Regions from separate parts of the Homo sapiens genome. Here all the other regions are linked to region 1. The links come from fine-mapping of genetic effects on gene expression. A gene starts in region 1. Each other region holds a variant in brackets. All regions are shown on one strand. Distances are between the middles of the regions.

Region 1 (5,594 bases):
GTTTCCCCAGGAAAGCAGCCTAGCCCCCGCCCCTGGGACCAGATAACCCGGGGGCTCCCACTCCTCCCAGTGGGGACCGGGCCTTCCCCAACTAGTGCCCTGAAGGTGCAGAGGCCACTCCACCACTTGAGGTCCAGTCCTGGCTCTGCCCTGCCCTGGCTGGGTGAGCCAGGGGTCAGGGCCTCACTAGAGACTTAGTTTCGTCATCTGTAAAATGGGCGGCTGCTGGGAGCAGATCAGAGCGCCTGGCATGACCCTGGCACTGTGGTTTCTGGGAGGAGCCGGGGGCTGAAGGCAGCACATGAGGTGCCCGCCTGGGCTGCCAGGGACAAACAGGAAGCAGATGAAAATAACTCGGCAGGAAGCAGGGCTGTCAGCGGCCGCGTGGAGGAGAAAACGGAACTGCCGGCCTGCAGGCCGCTGGGTCCCAGCACCTCCGCCGCCTGATGACCCCATCCTGCCCCTCGCCATGCCTCCTGAATCTCTCTCCACCCAGACCTCAGCCAACCCCCAGTTTGCTTCATTCCAAGACACAGATCTGCCCCCATCTGTCCTGTGCTCTAACACCTTCTATGGCTCCCCATTGCCCTTCTGCCTGGCGTTGTCATGCCTTCATCCTACACCAGCGGCACCCCACACCTTGGCCCCCAAATGCATTCTCTGTTTCCGTGTTTCTGAGCCTGTGCATGGGACATTTCCTCTGCCTTTCCCTCCTAATTGCCATCAGATCCTTTAAAAAAAATAAAGTGGGCACCCTCTTGAGCCAGTGTACGCTCAGGGACTCCCCCACCAAACTCCTACACATCCCTCAGAGCCTTAGCTGTCATGGCCTCTTCCACACAGCCCTCCCTGCCATCTGAGCCTCCCTCCCTTCTGAGCCTCCCCAAGTCCCTCCCTCCATCCTCCCTTGGGTCTGGCTCTGTCTTCCACCCAGGCCTCGGTGTCCCCGTGGCTCTCACCGTCACGCAACACACACTCCTTAAGTTTCTCAAGGCCCTCAGCGAAGCGGGCCACGTCCGCCAGCAGATGGGAGATGTCCTCGACGACGTCCGGGCCGGCACCCTCGGTGGGCAGCTCGCCCGGGCTGGCGGCTGTCAGTGGGCTCCGGTGGCTCCGGCCCAGTGTCCAGGAGGCAGCACCCGACAGGGGGAAGCCAGCCGCGCTGGCGTGGCGGCTCAGGCTGGTGGGCCGCTTGAGGGTCCCTGTGGCCTTGACGCCGGAGGACCCAGCGGGCGGCTCCAGGCTTGGTCCGGGGAACACCGCGTCAGCCCCATCCTTCCTGGGCAGCTCCTTGGGCAGGTCCGAGGGGAGCTCGTTAAAGGGATTTTCCGGCCTGGACACGGCCTCAGTTTCCCCAGAAATGAAGTGGGGCTGTGGAGGGCCACCATCACCCTGACCCCACAGGGGTCAAAGGCCAGAGGTCACAGGGCCGAGATTTGGTAGTGTACCCCCCCACCTGTTACCCAACATCCTCTTCCCTAGAGCTTTCACAAACAACGGTCCTTGCCCAAACCACAGCCGGGGCGGGGCCTGCGGGGAGGCGCGGGAGGGGGGTCCCCACTTCCTGGTGGGGGTGGGGAGGGTCCTCAGCCCTTCAAGCCCCCCTCAGGCTCCTACAACGCAGGTGCTTTAAGTGAACACACTTCTGACTCTGTCTGTCCCCTAAAGGTCCATGGAACCCCAGAGCCTATGGGCAGCCCCAGGCCTTGTAGACATCCCGGACCCCCAAGCTCTGTAGACCCCCCCCCCAGCTTTGTAGACACCCCAGGCCTGGGGACACTCCCCAACCTCTGAACCTGGTGGATCCCATTAGAGGATCTGCTGCCCGGTCAACCTTCAGCCCAATGGCCAGGCCACAGCCCTCCCATCTCAACGGCCCCTAGAGCCCCCAGATTGCCTAAGCCCCCAACCTGCAGCGGCCCAAACACAACATCGTCCCAACCCGGCACCCTCCCTTCCTGCTCCCTGGGCCCCGCGGCCAGCCCTGGATGGAGTGGAGGGAGGCGGCCACCACTCCCAGGGTCCCTACCGTGAGCTGAATGCCGGGGTCCCGGCCTCTCTGCTGTGGCCCCTGCCGTCCCGCCCGGTAGGGGCTGTAGCTGGCACGAGCCCCCAGCCGCCGCCCCAGCATGAGCCCCGAGCACAGGGCGGGTCCCTGTCCCCCTGCGGCCCGGCGTCAGCTCCGGGTCTCACCCGGGCTCCACTCACCCCCGAGGGCTGCGGGCTGGGGCTTCCCGCGCGGTTCTTTTTCGAGATGGAAGGGGTTTTCATGAGCTCTCGTTTCTTCCTGGAGAACATGATGGGGCCCCGGCCGGGAGCCCGAGGGGGCGGGCTGGGGGTCTCAGCGCTGCAGCTCCCGGCGCTGGCCGCTTCGGGACCACATTGTCGCCGGCCACCCCCTCCCCAGCTGTCAGGCCCACGTGACAGGCCCGGCCGTCACTGGCGGGCCCTCCCCCCAACAGGAAAAGGCTTCGGGGAGGCGGCGACGCGGCCTCGCCCCCGACCCTTCCCGGCCTCAGCCTGCGGCTCTGCGGAGTGGGCGCGAAGGTGAGGTCGCAGGCCCCGCCCCCAGCCCCGGGCCGCGCCCCCCGCTTCCGCCTTCGGGAGCTCGGAGCCGCGCCGCTCGCGGGGTGGGACCGGGAGCCCCTGCCTGACGCTGGCGGGCACGGGGCGGCCGACTGCAGGGCGCTGACTCTCACTCCCGGACGCGAGTGGGCGTGCACAGACACGTGCACGATGACACGCAGAGACCCGGACCTCCACACGCGCTCAGACGCCACCAAGCCCCTGGAGCCTCGCCCTCAGACCCCAGACACACGCACAGGCCGAAGCTGCGCCCCTGCAGCCCCCTTTTCCCTGAAGGCAAGCCCGCTCCACCGCCTCTCCTGCAGACCCTAGGGTGTGGCCGGGCCCCAGCAGGGCCGGGCAGAGTAGGGTCCCCCCCATCACCCGCCCTGCAGCCCCGTGAAGTGGGTCAGGTCGAGGACAGGTGGGGAAACTGAGGCCCAGAACCGAAACCCTGGGGGCAAAGACGTCCAGGAAGTCAGAACAATCCAGGTTACCGGGCCCTGTCCGTCTGGGTCCCCACGTCCGTCTGGGTCCCCACGTCCACCTGGTCCTGGGCTGCCTGCACAGGGGTCCCCAAAGTGTGGTGTGGACCCCACCATCGGCAGAATATGCTGAGGACACCTGGTTACCTCTCAGCAGCCCTGTGGGCCATATCATGTTGCCCCAGACCTGCCCTTAGCTAAGGTCCCCAGCCCCGCCTCCCAAGCTGCATTCCAGTGACTCTGGACCACCGGACGTGCTGGGCAGCAGGACGCAGGCACCCGTTGCTGATAACAGCCTGAGGCGGCATTGGCCAAGAGCTGGGGCATCTGCAGGCATACAGATCCCAGCCTCCTACCTTCCCCCAACCCCCACCCCGCAGTGTGAACTCTCTCCCCCCTCCCCAAGTCTCCCTGCTGTCCCCTTCCAGAACCCCACCCCCAATCCCAAAACCCCAACCTCTTTCCTTTCCCAAACCCCATTCCCACCTACCTCGGGTGGGAGGGGCAGATCTCTGGGGCACAGGACATGAAGGCCACAGCCCCTTGCTCCAAGTCTGGCTCTCCAGGCCCAGGTCCAAGTGCAAACCCAGCCCAGCAGACCCTTGAGAACTCTTTGCCCCCGACTCATGGCGCTGAGGGCTGGGGTCAGAGGGTGAGGGTCAGCTGGATGTCGGATGGGCTTCTGGCCCGGCCCTGGCCTGTGCTCCGGGACACCGGGCTCCTGTAAGCTTCCCAGGACATTCCTGAGTCCTGACCTCATCCCCACTTTATGGCCAGGCACTTACAGGTACCGCCCTTAGGCGCCAGCCCCACATAGGCACGCAGGGACGTGGGGACAGGGACGGTGTGACCAGGCCCTTATGAGGCCCGCACTCACATCCCCAACTCCTGGGCTGGCCACAGAGGCATTTACAGCTGGGATCCGGTCAGCTGTAGGCACGCTCACACCTGTGTCCTATGAATCGCCACTTGGCCCGTATGTGCACACTCAGCTTGCAAGGGGCCAGCCATATCCAGACGCATGTGCAGGCAGCTGTGTGGACATGTGTGCAGCCTGGCTCAAGGACACACATGCACACGGTTTCACCACCACGGCTTCTCTCCAGCCTTCTCTTTATTTTCTCCAGGGCACCAGCCCCTCTGCCAGCCTGAGTCCAGGGCTCCTAGGCACTCTACCTTGCCCTTGCCATTCCCAGGGCCTCCCCGCGGCCCCGCAGGGGAGGGAGGCTCAGAGCACAGTCTCGGCAGTGCTAGGGTCATCGAGGAACTGGCTGACGCGTTTGGGGTGCTGCAGGCCTGGCGCGGGGTCCACTCCCACTCCTGCCTCCTTCTGCTCTTCGGTGTCCTCGTCCTTCCCCTGGTCCTTGGAGAAGTACAAGAATACCTAGCGGTGGGCAGCCCAGAGGGGACAAGAGGGACGGTCAGCCCACGGGCCTGGCCCCCAGCCTGCCTCCCCCAGCCCGACCCCGGCGCCGTGATCACCTCCTCCAGCATCGTCTGGCTCACGGAAAAGTCCTCCACGCCGTGCTCTGCGCCGTGCACCGCCAGCTCTCCAAAGACGCGCGCCAGGGCGCAGCGCCCTCCCGGCGGCAGCTGGAAGCGCAGGCGGCCTCCATGTGCCTCGCGCAGCTCCGCCCCAGGGAACTCGGCCGCCACGAAGGCCGCTGCCGGCTGGGACCTTGCGGCGGGCACCCGCAGGGTCAGTGTGTGACCCGCCGCGAATCTGCAGTGAGTGGGGCCAGGGCTACCGGATCGGGCCTTTCCCAGGTCCCACCTCAGCTCACCCTCCAGCCCCTAATACTCTCTGGCCCCGCCCCATACTTGTACTACCCTAGCGATCAAGTGGTCCTCCCGTCTCAGTCCCCCGCCACCCCCCGCCCGCGTAGCTGAGACCACAGGCACACACCACCATGTCCAGCTAATTTTTAAATTTTTTATAGAGATGGGGTCTCCCTAGGTTGCCCAGGTTGCTCTCGAAGCTATCACCCCACTTGACTCCTTTTTCGGACACTCCTCTTTCGCCCTTGCACTCTACCCCCGCCCACACAATAAATACCCCCGCCCCACTTTCCTATGGCCCCGCCCACTAACCAGGCCCTCCCCTAACTCCACCCATCAATCCACCCTCACCTCTCCAGGCTGCACCTACTCCAACGCACACCTGATTGTGTCTTCTAAATCCACCCAGAGCCCCCGGCTCACGCCTCCTGGTCCTGCGCCCCCAGCACACCCCAGCCTGTCTCGCCCCCTCAGTCACCCCTGCAGGACAATCTAAAGCCTTGGCCATCTCTCCAGTTGGAGCCAAACTTTCCTCACCCGGCTCTACGTCTGGCCTCTCCCCTGAGCCTACCTACGTGCCCACCCTCACCCCACACCTGCCTGGAGGCCGCGCCGGCTCACCTGCCCTTGAGATGTTGCGGGCTGCCCAGGCAGCGGAACCGCCCATTCACCATGATGGCCAGGCGCGAGCAGAGCGCTTCACACTCCTCCATGCTGTCGGGACCCGGCACCACGAGCTCCGTGAGGCCGGGGCCACCTGTGCCT
Region 2 (5,594 bases), 23 kb before region 1:
TGATGCTTCTTAAAGAGAGCGTCCTGGGGTGTGAGGTCTGCTTGTTGGAGAGGTTGGTGCTGAGTCACCCGCCTCCCCAGAACTGCCCAGGGTGGGAGCCTCTCAGAGTCGAAGGTCTCTGCTTCTCCCTGGTCTCTGGGTGACTGAGGGGTGTCAGCCCCCTGTCCCTGTCTCCGGGTGAATGAGAGGTTTCAGCCCTCTCTTCCCCTGTCCTGGGATCCTGCAACTCAGGCCTCGTTTTGCAAACGCGGAAGCCGAGGCCCGAGCAGGAGAGACACCTGTGTGGAATGGGGCTGGAACCTGGGTGCTCTGGGCTCTGGGTGGGCGAGGGCCACGAGGGCCCAGGCTCGTGCAGGCCAGCACACTCTCTGTCTGCAGAGGAGCCCAAGGTGGGCATCAAGACCATCAAGGTGTACTGCCAGCGCATGCAGGAGGAGAACATCACACGGGCTCTCATCGTGGTGCAGCAGGGCATGACACCCTCCGCCAAGCAGGTGGGCACCCCTGCCCCACCCCGCCAGCCTCTCCCCCTCCCCAGCCTCCTCCCGCAAGCAGTACCCACAGGCGGCCCACGTGCCTTGGGCTTTGGGCCAGGCCAGCCAGGGTGCCCTGGAGGATGTGGCCGGGATGTCCGGCAAGCCCCGACCGCCTCCCTCCCACCGCGTCCATGGGCCCCACCCCAGGCAGCCGCCGTCCTCCCCCAGCTCTCAGGAGGGGCGTCAGGGCGGAGGGCACTGTGCCTCTCGCCAGCTCCTGTGGGCTCCAGCCCTCGGCCTGGTGCAGATTCCAGGAGCCGGAGGTTCTTTATCCTGAGCTGATGTCCAGGGGGACTTGCAGAGGAGGCCCGGCACGGGGTCCTCCAGGGGCCTATCCGTGTTCCCCGTCTGTCTGTCGGACACTCTGGAGCCAGGCTGCTGTGCTGTGACGGGCAGTCAGCAGAGCAGTTTAGTCCCTGGCCCACCAGCTGTGGGGTTCACGCAGCCACACAGAGCAGCACCCCTGTATGGGGAAGAGGTCGCCCTGCCAGCTCTGAGGGCCGCCCCTGGAAGCGTGTGATGGATGGAAACACATCCGAGTTTCCACGGCCACTTCACTGCTGGATGAGGCTCTCGATGAGCAGAGAGGCTGGGGAGGGGCGGGCTGTTGAAGGCTCCTGGGCTGGCGGTGGGGTTTTCTGATTCACGACGTGGGTGTGTTGTTGGGGCACACGAGTAAGCCCCAGGTAGCTTGAGGCAGGAAATGGGGTTGGGGTTGTCTGGGCCCCTCCGGGCCGTGCCTTAGAGCCGCTCTCTTCCAGTCCCTGGTCGACATGGCCCCCAAGTACATCCTGGAGCAGTTTCTGCAGCAGGAGCTGCTCATCAACATCACGGAGCACGAGGTGGGCGCGCGCCGCGGAATCCCGCCTGCGTGGGGCCGGCAGAGATGCAGCGTTTGTGGGTGGCCAGGAAGATGTGGGATCTGGGGCCCAGGGCAGGTGTTCCTATTAGTGCATGGAGGACAGGGTTCTCAAAGGGTGGCCCTGGGCCTGCAGCAGCCGAACCCGGGAGCTTCCTAGAAATGCAGATCCCGGCCGGGCGCGGTGGCTCACACATGTAATCCCAGCACTTTGGGAGGCCGAGGCGGGCGGATCACGAGGTCAGGAGTTCCAGACCATCCTGGCTAACACGGTGAAACCCCGTCTCTACTAAAAATACAAAAAAATTAGCCAGGCGTGGTGGCGAGCGCCTGTAGTCCCAGCTACTCGGGGAGCCGAGATTGTGCCACTGCACTCCAGCCTGGGAGACAGAGCAAGACTCCATCTCAAAAAAAAAAAAAAAAAAAAAAATGCAGATCCCGGGCCCACCCCAGCCTGTAGAATCGGGACTGCTGGGAGTGTGGAGGGACCCTAGTGCTGGGACAGGAGGAGTCCCAGCAGGAGGTGGCTGTGCCCAGCCCGTCTGCCTCAGAAGCCCCAGGAGCTGTGACTCCGTCCCCCGCCTGTGGAGCCAGGGTGGGGTGGGTGGGCTCCCTGAGTGCCGGGGATCGGGGTGGGGTTCAGGGCTCTTGTCCGTCTGAAGGCGCAGGGGCTGTGGTGGCACCTGGGAGCCACGTGGGGTCTCACCAGCCCTTGGTGATGCCTGGTGGCTTCCTCTCTCGGCAGCTAGTCCCTGAGCACGTCGTCATGACCAAGGAGGAGGTGACAGAGCTGCTGGCCCGATAGTATCCTTTCCAGCCCCACCGGCCCCGCCCCTCCCTGTCCCTCGAGACTTCCGCGTTCCCCCCCCACACACACCCCTGCCCCCCCAACGGCCCTGTCTGGCATTTTCCTGACGGTGCTTCGCAGTAAGCTCCGAGAGAACCAGCTGCCCAGGATCCAGGCGGGGGACCCTGTGGCGCGCTACTTTGGGATAAAGCGTGGGCAGGTGAGCCCTGTGGGGAGAAGGGGCCCTGGGGCTGCTCTGAGCTGACCACTCGGAGAAGGGGGCTTCTGTCCCTCCCCGACAGCCCCTCCCCCTTGATCCAGGGCCTGGAGGGGACCTCGAGACCACACCCCCAATATCCCCCTCTTAAAGCCAGGGCCACTGGGCCCAGAGAAGAGCGTGACCCAGGTTCCCAGGGAGCGGGTCCCACAGCCCAGGGTCAGCCATCTCGGACCCCTGCCGGCCATCCCCAGCCCGTGTGCTGCCCGCCTGCTGTCTGGTGACTGCAGTGAGACCCCTCAAGCATTCGCAGCCCCTGCTCTCTGTCTCTGCAGGTGGTGAAGATCATCCGGCCCAGTGAGACGGCTGGCAGGTACATCACCTACCGGCTGGTGCAGTAGCTACCGCCTGACAGGTGAGACGGCCGAGGGACAGGCACTGAGGTGGGGTCAGAGGCAGGGGTGTCGTCCCCTCCGTCG[G/A]TGTGCAGGGCTGTTCTTGCTTTGTCCGGCAGCAAGACCCTCCTAGCACCAGCCCAGCTGGGCCACCAGGCGCTCCCAGGACACCCCCAGACCCCCAGACCCCACCCGACCGTAGGCTGCAGCTCTTGGGGCTGTGCGCCTGGACGGGAGAGTCCTGGTACGCGGGGCGTGCGTCTCTCCGCCGCTGACCCACCTTAGAAGCAGGAGACGTTCACCTGCAGGGCAGTTGTGCGGCGGGACTTTCCAGAAGAGGGTTTAGAAACCTGCCCAGAGACCCCAGAGCTGAGAGAGGAGGCACAGCTTCAGGCCAACCCTTCCCTGAGTGGGCACCTTGGGAGGGACTGGCCGGAGTCTCAGGAGCGGGACAGCCTCTGCCCATGGCGAGAGCCTCCCAGCTTCCCCTGGACTCTGGTCATGGCGAGCTGCTGTCCTGCAGGCCGCCCCACTTCACACTCAGCCCAGGGGTGGGGCTTGGCCTGGTCTGACGCTGGCACGGTTCCTTTGAGGTCAGAGCTACTGCCCACGCCTGTGTGACCGCTGGGCACAAGGGAGCCGTCCGGCCTCTGCACTGCGGCCTGGGCCGCCTCCTGCCAGGCCTCCCGCACCCCGTCACGTTCGGTGGGCGTTGTGCTGTCCTGGGCATACTGGATCTGCCCCTGTCGTGTGACCACTCTCCCCCTTTCCTAGCCCCTAGAGGCGGACACACAGCGACCCCCATCCCTGCAGGACAAACGCCCCTGCCCTGCCAGAATCCGGCCCCCACAGCTCTCACGGCTGCTGCTCCTCTGGACTCCCCAAGGCAGGTGGCCTCCACCCACGTTCTCCCGTCCTGGGGTGAGGCTTCCTGTGGCCCAGCCCGCCCCATTCACCTGTGGATTTGTGCGAGATGCAGCCTCAGAAGGAACAAGGCCCCCAGAGGGAGGTCACCTGGGGGCAGCTGGTGCCGGGTCTTCACCCAGACCACGCTGGGTCCCCTCTGTTGGGGGTTTGGGGTCCGGGTCTCCCACCAGCCACTGCTTCCTCCTGGGCCCTCGGCCTTCCACCCCTCGTCTTCCCTCCCTCGGGGGCCCTGATGCGTGGCGGCCCCCGCCCGGCCTCGGCTCTTTACTCCATTCACAGCCATGCACGCGCTCAAGCCACCAGGGTGCGAGATGCCAGCTCTGGAGTTCTCGGTTGTTGTAGGAGGTTGGGTGTTTTCAAATGGTAAAGATGTTTTGAGCAAATAAATTTGCTTGATACAGAAACCAGGCCGACTAACAAGGTTTCCAGCAGGTGGCCTTGCCTCACCCCAAGCACACGAGGTCAGCCTGGCAGGTGTGCCCTCCTCGCGCTGGCTTCAGGGGTCAGTGTCTCCCCAGGCCCTCGCCCTGCCCTCCCACTTCGTGCTCCTGGGTAAGGCGTGAGCGTGTCTGTCTCTTCCCTTCCCGTGAGGGTGTGGAGTTGTTCTCTGGCTTGTGCAGCTGTGGTTTGCGGCCAGTTCCTCTTACAGACGTTTGGGATCTGGCTCTACTTCCCCGTTTGCTTACTGTCTGATTTCAGAAGGCCTCGCCTGCCCAAGTTTAACCTAGCCACGTGGTTCTCTCACAGTAGCTTTATTAAGATGTAATTCACCCTCGGGCGGTCGGTGGTCTGTAACGCGCCCACTGTTCTGTGCAGCAGGGTCCCCAGATCCCCAGGCCGCGGACTGTGTGTGTGATGGGGACAGTGCTTCCCCTTCTCTCCAAATGTACTTTTTTCAAAATTGTCTTGGCCAAAGCAAGCCAGACCCAAAGGGACAAACACTGATGTCACTCCTAGGAGGTCACTAGAGTCGTCAGAGACTGGAAGTAGGATGGGGGTTCCCGGGACTGGGGAGTTGGGTGGGGATGGGGGTTCCCAGGGCTGGGGAGGAGGGAGGGGACAGAGTGTGTCATGTGCACAGTTTTAGTTTGGGAAGATGAGAAAATTCTGGAGGTGGCCGGGCGCGGTGGCTCACGCCTGTAATCCCAGCACTTTGGGAGGCCGAGGTGGGCGGATCACCTGAGGTCGGGAGTTCGAGACCAGCCTGACCAACATGGCAAAATCCCATCACTGCAAAAAATACAAAAATTACCTGGGCGTGGTGGTGCATGCCTGTAATCCCAGCTACTTGGGAGCTAAGGCAGGAGAATCACTTGAACCCAGGAAGTGGAGGATCGCTTGAGCTCAGGAGTTAAAAGACCAGCCCGGGCAACACAGAGAAACCCCCCACCTCTACAAAAAACTTTAAGATTACCTGGGCACAGTGGCTCACACCTGTAATCCCAACACTTTGGGAGGCTGAGGCGGGAGGATCATTTGAGCCCAGGAGGCCGAGGCTGCAGTGAGCTACGATTGTGCTCCTGTACTCCAGCCTGGGCCACAGGGTCACACCCTGTCTCAAAAAAAAAAAAAAATGCAGTTCCACAGGCGCATGGGCCACGTTTCCAGTGCTTGGTGGCCATGTGGGGCTGACGTGCGAAACCTTAGAGCCGGGGGATACGTCCGTCATCGAGAACGTTTTCCTGGACTGCCCTGGGCTGCAGGTGGACGTGACGAGGTCATTCGATGCCTGACCGTCTGCACAGCCTGTGGTGAAGACCACCCGGGCTCCCACCTCGCGGGGCCCCGTGGCGGGGGGTTCCCTTCCTCACACATCCCTCCCCTAGGGGGAGGCCCAGGGCCACGCCACGGGGCTCTCTCTGTCCCCTCCCTGGCC
Region 3 (5,594 bases), 20 kb after region 1:
AGGGAGGGAGTGGTGGGGGGGCTCACGGGGAGGGAGTGGTGGGGGGTTCACGGGGAGGGAGTGGTGGGGGGGCTCACGGGGAGGGAGTGGTGGGGGGTTCACGGGGAGGGAGTGGTGGGGGGCCTCACGGGGAGGGAGTGGTGGGGGGGCTCACGGGGAGGGAGTGGTGGGGGGTTCACGGGGAGGGAGTGGTGGGGGGGCTCACGGGGAGGGAGTGGTGGGGGGTTCACGGGGAGGGAGTGGTGGGGGGCTCACGGGGAGGGAGTGGTGGGGGGGCTCACGGGGAGGGAGTGGTGGGGGGTTCACGGGGAGGGAGTGGTGGGGGGCTCACGGGGAGGGAGTGGTGGGGGGGCTCACGGGGTGGGAGTGGGGGGGCTCACGGGGAGGGAGTGGTTGGGGGCTCACAGGGTGGTGGTCTTGCCGGCCCCGTTGTGGCCCAGGAAGGCGGTGATGTGGCCCTGGTAGAAGTCCAGGCTGAGCCCCCGCAGGGCTGGCTGCGGGCTTCCAGGAAAGCGCTTCTCCAGGCTGCGAACGGAGACGCCAGGACTCAGGCCGGGCGGTGCCTCTTCTACCAGCACTGCAGAGATGGGGTGGACTCAGCCATGGAGGTCATGGGGGTCCTGGGGCCTGCAAGTCCCTCAGAGCTGGGCTGTGGAATCCGGGACCTGCTGGGCCGGGGCCTATAAAAGCTGCGGGAGCTTGGGGACCGCAGTGTCTTCAGGGCAGGTGTGAGGGTTGGGGTGTCCAGGTCATTGTCATTGGCATCTGTGGAATCTCGTTTTGGGGGGGAACTGGGCATATGTGGACAACCAGCTATTAAGCCTCGTAGTGCCTCACCCTTTGGGTCCAGCGGGGTGGGGCAAGGGGCTGGACTCTTGGGGGGCCGAGGTCCGCACCAGTAGCTCCTCCGAAAAGGAAAATTCCATGGTTCAGGGATCCCGTACTGGCCTGCGGGGAGGGGCGCGGGTTATTGCTTAGCCCACCCCCCAGGAGTGTACCAGGCTTTTTTTGGGGTTTTGTTTTTTTTTTTTTTTGAGACGGAGTCTTGCTCTGTTGCCCAGGCTGGAGTGCAGTGGCACGATTTTGACTCGCTGCAAGCTCCGCCTCCCCAGTTCACGTCATTCTCCTGCCTCAGCCTCCTGAGTAGCTGGGACTACAGGCGCCCGCCACCATGCCTGGATAATTTTTTGTATTTTTGGGAGAGACGGGGTTTCACCGTGTTAGCCAGGATGGTCTCCATCTCCTGACCTCGTGATCTGCCCACCTCGGCCTCCCAAAGTGCTGGGAAAGCAGGCGTGAGCCACCGTGCCCGGCCTTGTTTTTTTTTTTTTTGTTTTTTTTTTTTTGAGACTGAGTTTCACTCTTGTTGCCCAGGCTGGAGTGCAGTGGCGCGATCTCGACTCACCGCAACCTCCGCCTCCGGGATTCAAGCATTTCTCCTGCCTCTGCCTTCCAAGTAGCTAGGAAACAGGCACCCGCCACCACACCCAGCTAATTTTGTATTTTTAGTAGAGACGGGGTTTCTCCATGTTGGTCAGGCTGGTCTCGAAATCCCGACCTCAGATGACCCGCCCGCCTCGGCCTCCCAAAGTGCTGGGATTACAGGCGTGAGCCACCGCACCCAGCCAGCTTTTTTTTTTTTTTTTTTTTTAAAGAGATGGAGGTCTCACTCTGTTGCCCAGGCTGGTGGGATCACGGCTCACAGCAGCCTCAACCTCCTGGGCTCGAGTGATCCTCCCACCCCATCCTCCCGAGTAGCTGGGACTACAGGAGCGTGCCACCACGCCCAGCGTGCCACCACGCCCAGCTAACTTTTTGTATTGATGAGGTCTCACTATATTGCCCAGCCTGGTCTCAAACTCCTGGGCTCAAGCGATTCTCCTGCCTTGGCCTCCCAAAGTGCTGGGATTACAAGCGTGAGCCACAGCGCCCGGCGACTGTGCCAGCTTCTGGCCATACACCTGGAATCAGGGCGTCCAGGTATGAGGCGGCCCAGAAACCCCGCCCACCTGCCTCAGGCCCCGCCCCTCCAATGCAGCCACCTGCATGCGTGTGCCAAGAAGCCCCGCCTTCTCTCCAAGGGAATAAGCCACCCCCCACCCCCAAACGGCCTGGAGGCCACACCCCTAGCTCAGCCTCCCGCAAAGCAGGTGCGACCCGGCCCGGAGCCCCGCCCCCTACGGCCCACCTGGGCACACAGCTTCCAGGTACCAGGTGGCGAGGCCGTAGAGCGCCGCGTCCAGCAGCAGAAGGCCAGAGACCTGGGCCAGGCTGAAGACGTCTGCCGTAGGCCGGGTGCCCACGTTGTGCCACTGCGCGCCCTCGCCCTGCTCCTCCAGCAGAGCCAGGCTCTCGCAGCCGAAGCCGAAGGCCACGGGCGACAGCAGGCTCTGCGGAAAAGCGGGCGGTCAGTGAGCGGCCGAAGCGGGGGGCGTCCCCCATCCACGCCCGACCCGGCTCTCACCGCGGCCACGCGGCCACCCGCGGGCAGCCGGTCCCGCCAAGCCACACACAGCACGTAGGGCAGGTAGAGGGAGAAGTAGGCCAGGCCGCCGCAGGCCGCAGCCAGGTTGGCGCGGGAGAAGAAGGCGCTGAGCAGGAAGCTCTGGGTCACCGTGGCCACCGCGAAGGCTGCCAAGAACAGGAAGACCACGCCCGGGTGGCTGTAGGGGAGGATGTC[T/C]CCCAGCTGTGAGAGGCAACGGGAGCTTAGGGTGCAGCTCCTGGATTGGCCTGGGGGCGCGCACCCACGTGGGGCCGCCCCTGTCTGTCACCCTCCAGCGCACCCATTCTGCAGCCGGGCAGGCCGAGGCGCGCCCACCTTGAGCACCAGAACCAGCAGTGCGGCGCTGAGCAGGAAGGGCCCGAGGCAGCTGAGGAACCAGCCTAGCCAGAGCACCGCGCGGCTGAGCCCCATGGCGCGCATGGTGTCCCGCAGCCGCGTCTCCTTCTCCCGCACCACGGCCTTCACTGTCAGTGTCACGGAGTAGATCCAGGCCAGCGTCAGGAAGAGCGGCAGCGACCGGCTCAGCACACGCAGGAACCTGGGGTGGGGACGGCTGGGGTGGAGGCTGGAGACCCTCCGCAGACCCCCCCTCCGCCCACCATCTGGCACGACTGGTTCGTGTCCCGGGATCTCAAGGCGGGAAGATTTGCCTCCCTGTTCCTTGGAACCTGATCCAGCCAGCCTTTGGCTCTCAGGCATCAGTGCAGCCCAGGCTGTCCCTGCGCCGGGGGCCCCCAGACCCTCAGAGTCCCCCCCCCCACCAGACCCTCAGAGTCCCCTGCTCCTCCCGCTGCAGCAGGTCACGTGGAGTGGTGTAAAGGTGCAAAGTTCGCAGCCTGGACCGCAGGAAGGTTCCCAACAGAGCCTGGGCCCACCCCCACACCCGGGACCTTCCCGCCGCGGGGAAGAGCGGGGAGGGGTGCCAGAGCTCACACGTCGTCCACATAGCACGGATAGGGCATCTGCTGCAGGTAGAGGCCGGCCCGGGGGTTGGCGCCGCTGAGCACGCGGACGGCTGCACGCTCCACCAGGTCTTGCAGGTACACGAAGCCGCCCCACACGTAGCGCAGGTCGGTCAGGGGGTCCGCGGCTGGGCCAGGGTCCCAAAACCTGCGAGAGGGGCATGGTGGCCGGTTGTAGGGAAGGGCTAGAAACTCCCGGGGCCCCACCCTGAATAACCTTTTTCTTAGACAGGGTCTTGCTCTGTCGCCCAGGCTGGAGTGAAGAGCTGCAATCATAGCTCACTGCAGCCTTGACCTCCCGGGATCAAACGATCCCCCCAGCTCGGCCTCCCAAGTCGCCTGGCTAATTTTATTCATTTATTCATTTGTTTGAGACGGAGTCTCGCTCTATCGCCCAGGCTGGAGTGCAGTGGCGCCATCTCGGCTCACTGCAACCTCCGCCTCCTGGGTTCAAGCGATTCTCCTGCCTCAGCCTCCTGGGTAGCTGGGCCTACAGGCGCGTGCTACCACGCCCGGCTAATTTTTTGTACTTTTTTTTTTTAGTAGAGGCAGGGTTTCACCGAGTTAGTCAGGATGGTCTTGATCTCCTGACCTCGTGATCCGCCCGCCTCAGCCTCCCAAAGTGCTGGGATTACAGGCGTGAGCCACTGTGCCCGGCCTCACCTGGCTAATTTTTAAAGATATTTTCGTGAGGTTGGTGGGGGAGGGGGGCGGGGGGGAGGCGGTCTCACTATGTTGCCCAGGCTAGTCTCGAATACCTGTCCTCAAGAGATTCTCCCACTTTGGCCTCCCAAAGTTCTGAGATAACAGGCAAGATCTACTGCGCTCAGCACCCGGTGCAATTTTAGCTCCACCCTTATTCCAGGGACCTAATAATACACCTGGCTCCGCCCACCATTGCCCTCAACCTATACCTGCTCTCATCTTATCTCAGGCCCATGGCCACGCCCCTCATGCACCTAGGCCCCGCCCATCACGGGCCCCTATTGGTCTAAGGAGCCCCGGGCTCTGGCTACCATACCACTGTTGATACAGCCCAGATCCTGTCTATCATGGTCTCCAATAGGCTGAATGCTGCCTGGCCCCACCCACCACGCTCTTGGCCCCGCCCAGTCCCTCATCCCCCCGCCCCCTCCCTCGCCTGACCTGTCCCTGATCTTATTGGTCCTCGTGACCACGTCAATGTCCATGCGGATTTTGATGCGCACGTGGCCGGGGCCCAGGTCTGGGGTTGGGTGCTCTGTGGGGTCTGAAGAGTCCTCAGGTCCCAAGAAGACGACGCCGGCCCAGAATCGATGTTCCGCGAGCAGTTGCAGGGCCCGCGACACCAGGGCTGCCTCTGAGGGTGCCGCCTCCAGCTTGTCCAAGGACAGGCACTGTGGGATGCGGGGGTGAGTCCTAGGCGCTGGGGTCCGCCTGCCTCCTAGACCACTCCGCTCCTCCCCCTGGACCTCGGGGCTGGGCCATGTTTTCCCCTCGTAGGCCCACGGCCGGCTCCCTCCTGAGATCTCTACAAATCCCAGGCTCTTACTAGGGCCGGGCCCGCCTCCCCCTGGGAACACCAGGGTGGGAACACTAGGATGGGACCTGCCCTCCCCACTGAAACAGACCCCGCAGGTGGACAGGCCCTCACCTCCGTCACTCGGCCCAGCGTGCCCACCAGGTGCCCCACATCAGCGTGTGCGTCCTGCCAGCTGTAGCCACCGCTCCCAGGGTCCAGAAAGGATCGCAGGGCCTCCATGTGGTCCCGGCCTCCAGGTCTGGGCTGCCTTCTTCCTTCATCCTGCATCTGCAGGAGCCGCTGGGGGGCGCAGGTGAAAGTGAGAGTCTGGGTCGGGCACAGTGGCTCATGCCTGTAATCCCAGCACTTTGGGAGGCGAGGCGGGTGGATCACCTGAGGTCAGGAGTTCGAGACCAGCCTGGCCAACATGGTGAAAGCCCATCTCTACTAAAAATACAAAAAGTAGCCGGGAGTGGTGGCGCATGCCTGTAATCCCAGTTACTTGTGAGGCTGAAGCAGGAGAATTGCTTGAATCCAGGAGGCGGAGGTTGCAGTGAGCCAAGATCTCGCCACTGCAGTCCAGCCTGGGCAACAGAGTGAGACTCCATCTCTTAAAAAAAAAAAAAAA

Evidence for each region.
Region 2: its variant is fine-mapped to the expression of ARHGAP45 in nucleus accumbens (GTEx, PIP 0.95).
Region 3: its variant is fine-mapped to the expression of ARHGAP45 in whole blood (TOPMed, PIP above 0.99).

Annotation. Positions count from the first base shown.
Region 1 is chr19:1,064,110-1,069,703 of GRCh38, reverse strand. ARHGAP45 (Rho GTPase activating protein 45) reads right to left here and starts at 2,537. Exons shown (of 23, transcript NM_012292.5): 1 at 2,209-2,537; 2 at 960-1,290. The coding sequence starts at 2,298. It overlaps ABCA7 (ATP binding cassette subfamily A member 7), which reads right to left. Exons shown (of 47, transcript NM_019112.4): 45 at 5,451-5,543; 46 at 4,533-4,773; 47 at 4,132-4,434. The coding sequence ends at 4,279. RefSeq lists enhancers at 238-397, 2,588-3,094 and silencers at 788-887, 1,418-1,657, 1,968-2,727, 4,568-4,617.
Region 2 is chr19:1,086,692-1,092,285 of GRCh38, reverse strand. It overlaps POLR2E (RNA polymerase II, I and III subunit E), which reads left to right. Exons shown (of 8, transcript NM_002695.5): 3 at 379-494; 4 at 1,298-1,378; 5 at 2,141-2,199; 6 at 2,324-2,402; 7 at 2,735-2,814; 8 at 3,566-5,594. The coding sequence ends at 2,800. Among named protein-coding and RNA genes, the nearest start is that of POLR2E, 5.9 kb to the left of the region's middle. RefSeq lists an enhancer at 3,231-3,330. The variant G/A (reference allele first, on the strand shown) is at 2,879.
Region 3 is chr19:1,044,249-1,049,842 of GRCh38, reverse strand. ABCA7 (ATP binding cassette subfamily A member 7) reads right to left here. Exons shown (of 47, transcript NM_019112.4): 11 at 5,099-5,266; 12 at 4,612-4,841; 13 at 3,437-3,613; 14 at 2,819-3,041; 15 at 2,465-2,686; 16 at 2,189-2,390; 17 at 838-948; 18 at 406-577. Among named protein-coding and RNA genes, the nearest start is that of ABCA7, 6.9 kb to the right of the region's middle. RefSeq lists silencers at 4,328-4,377, 4,468-4,617. The variant T/C (reference allele first, on the strand shown) is at 2,681.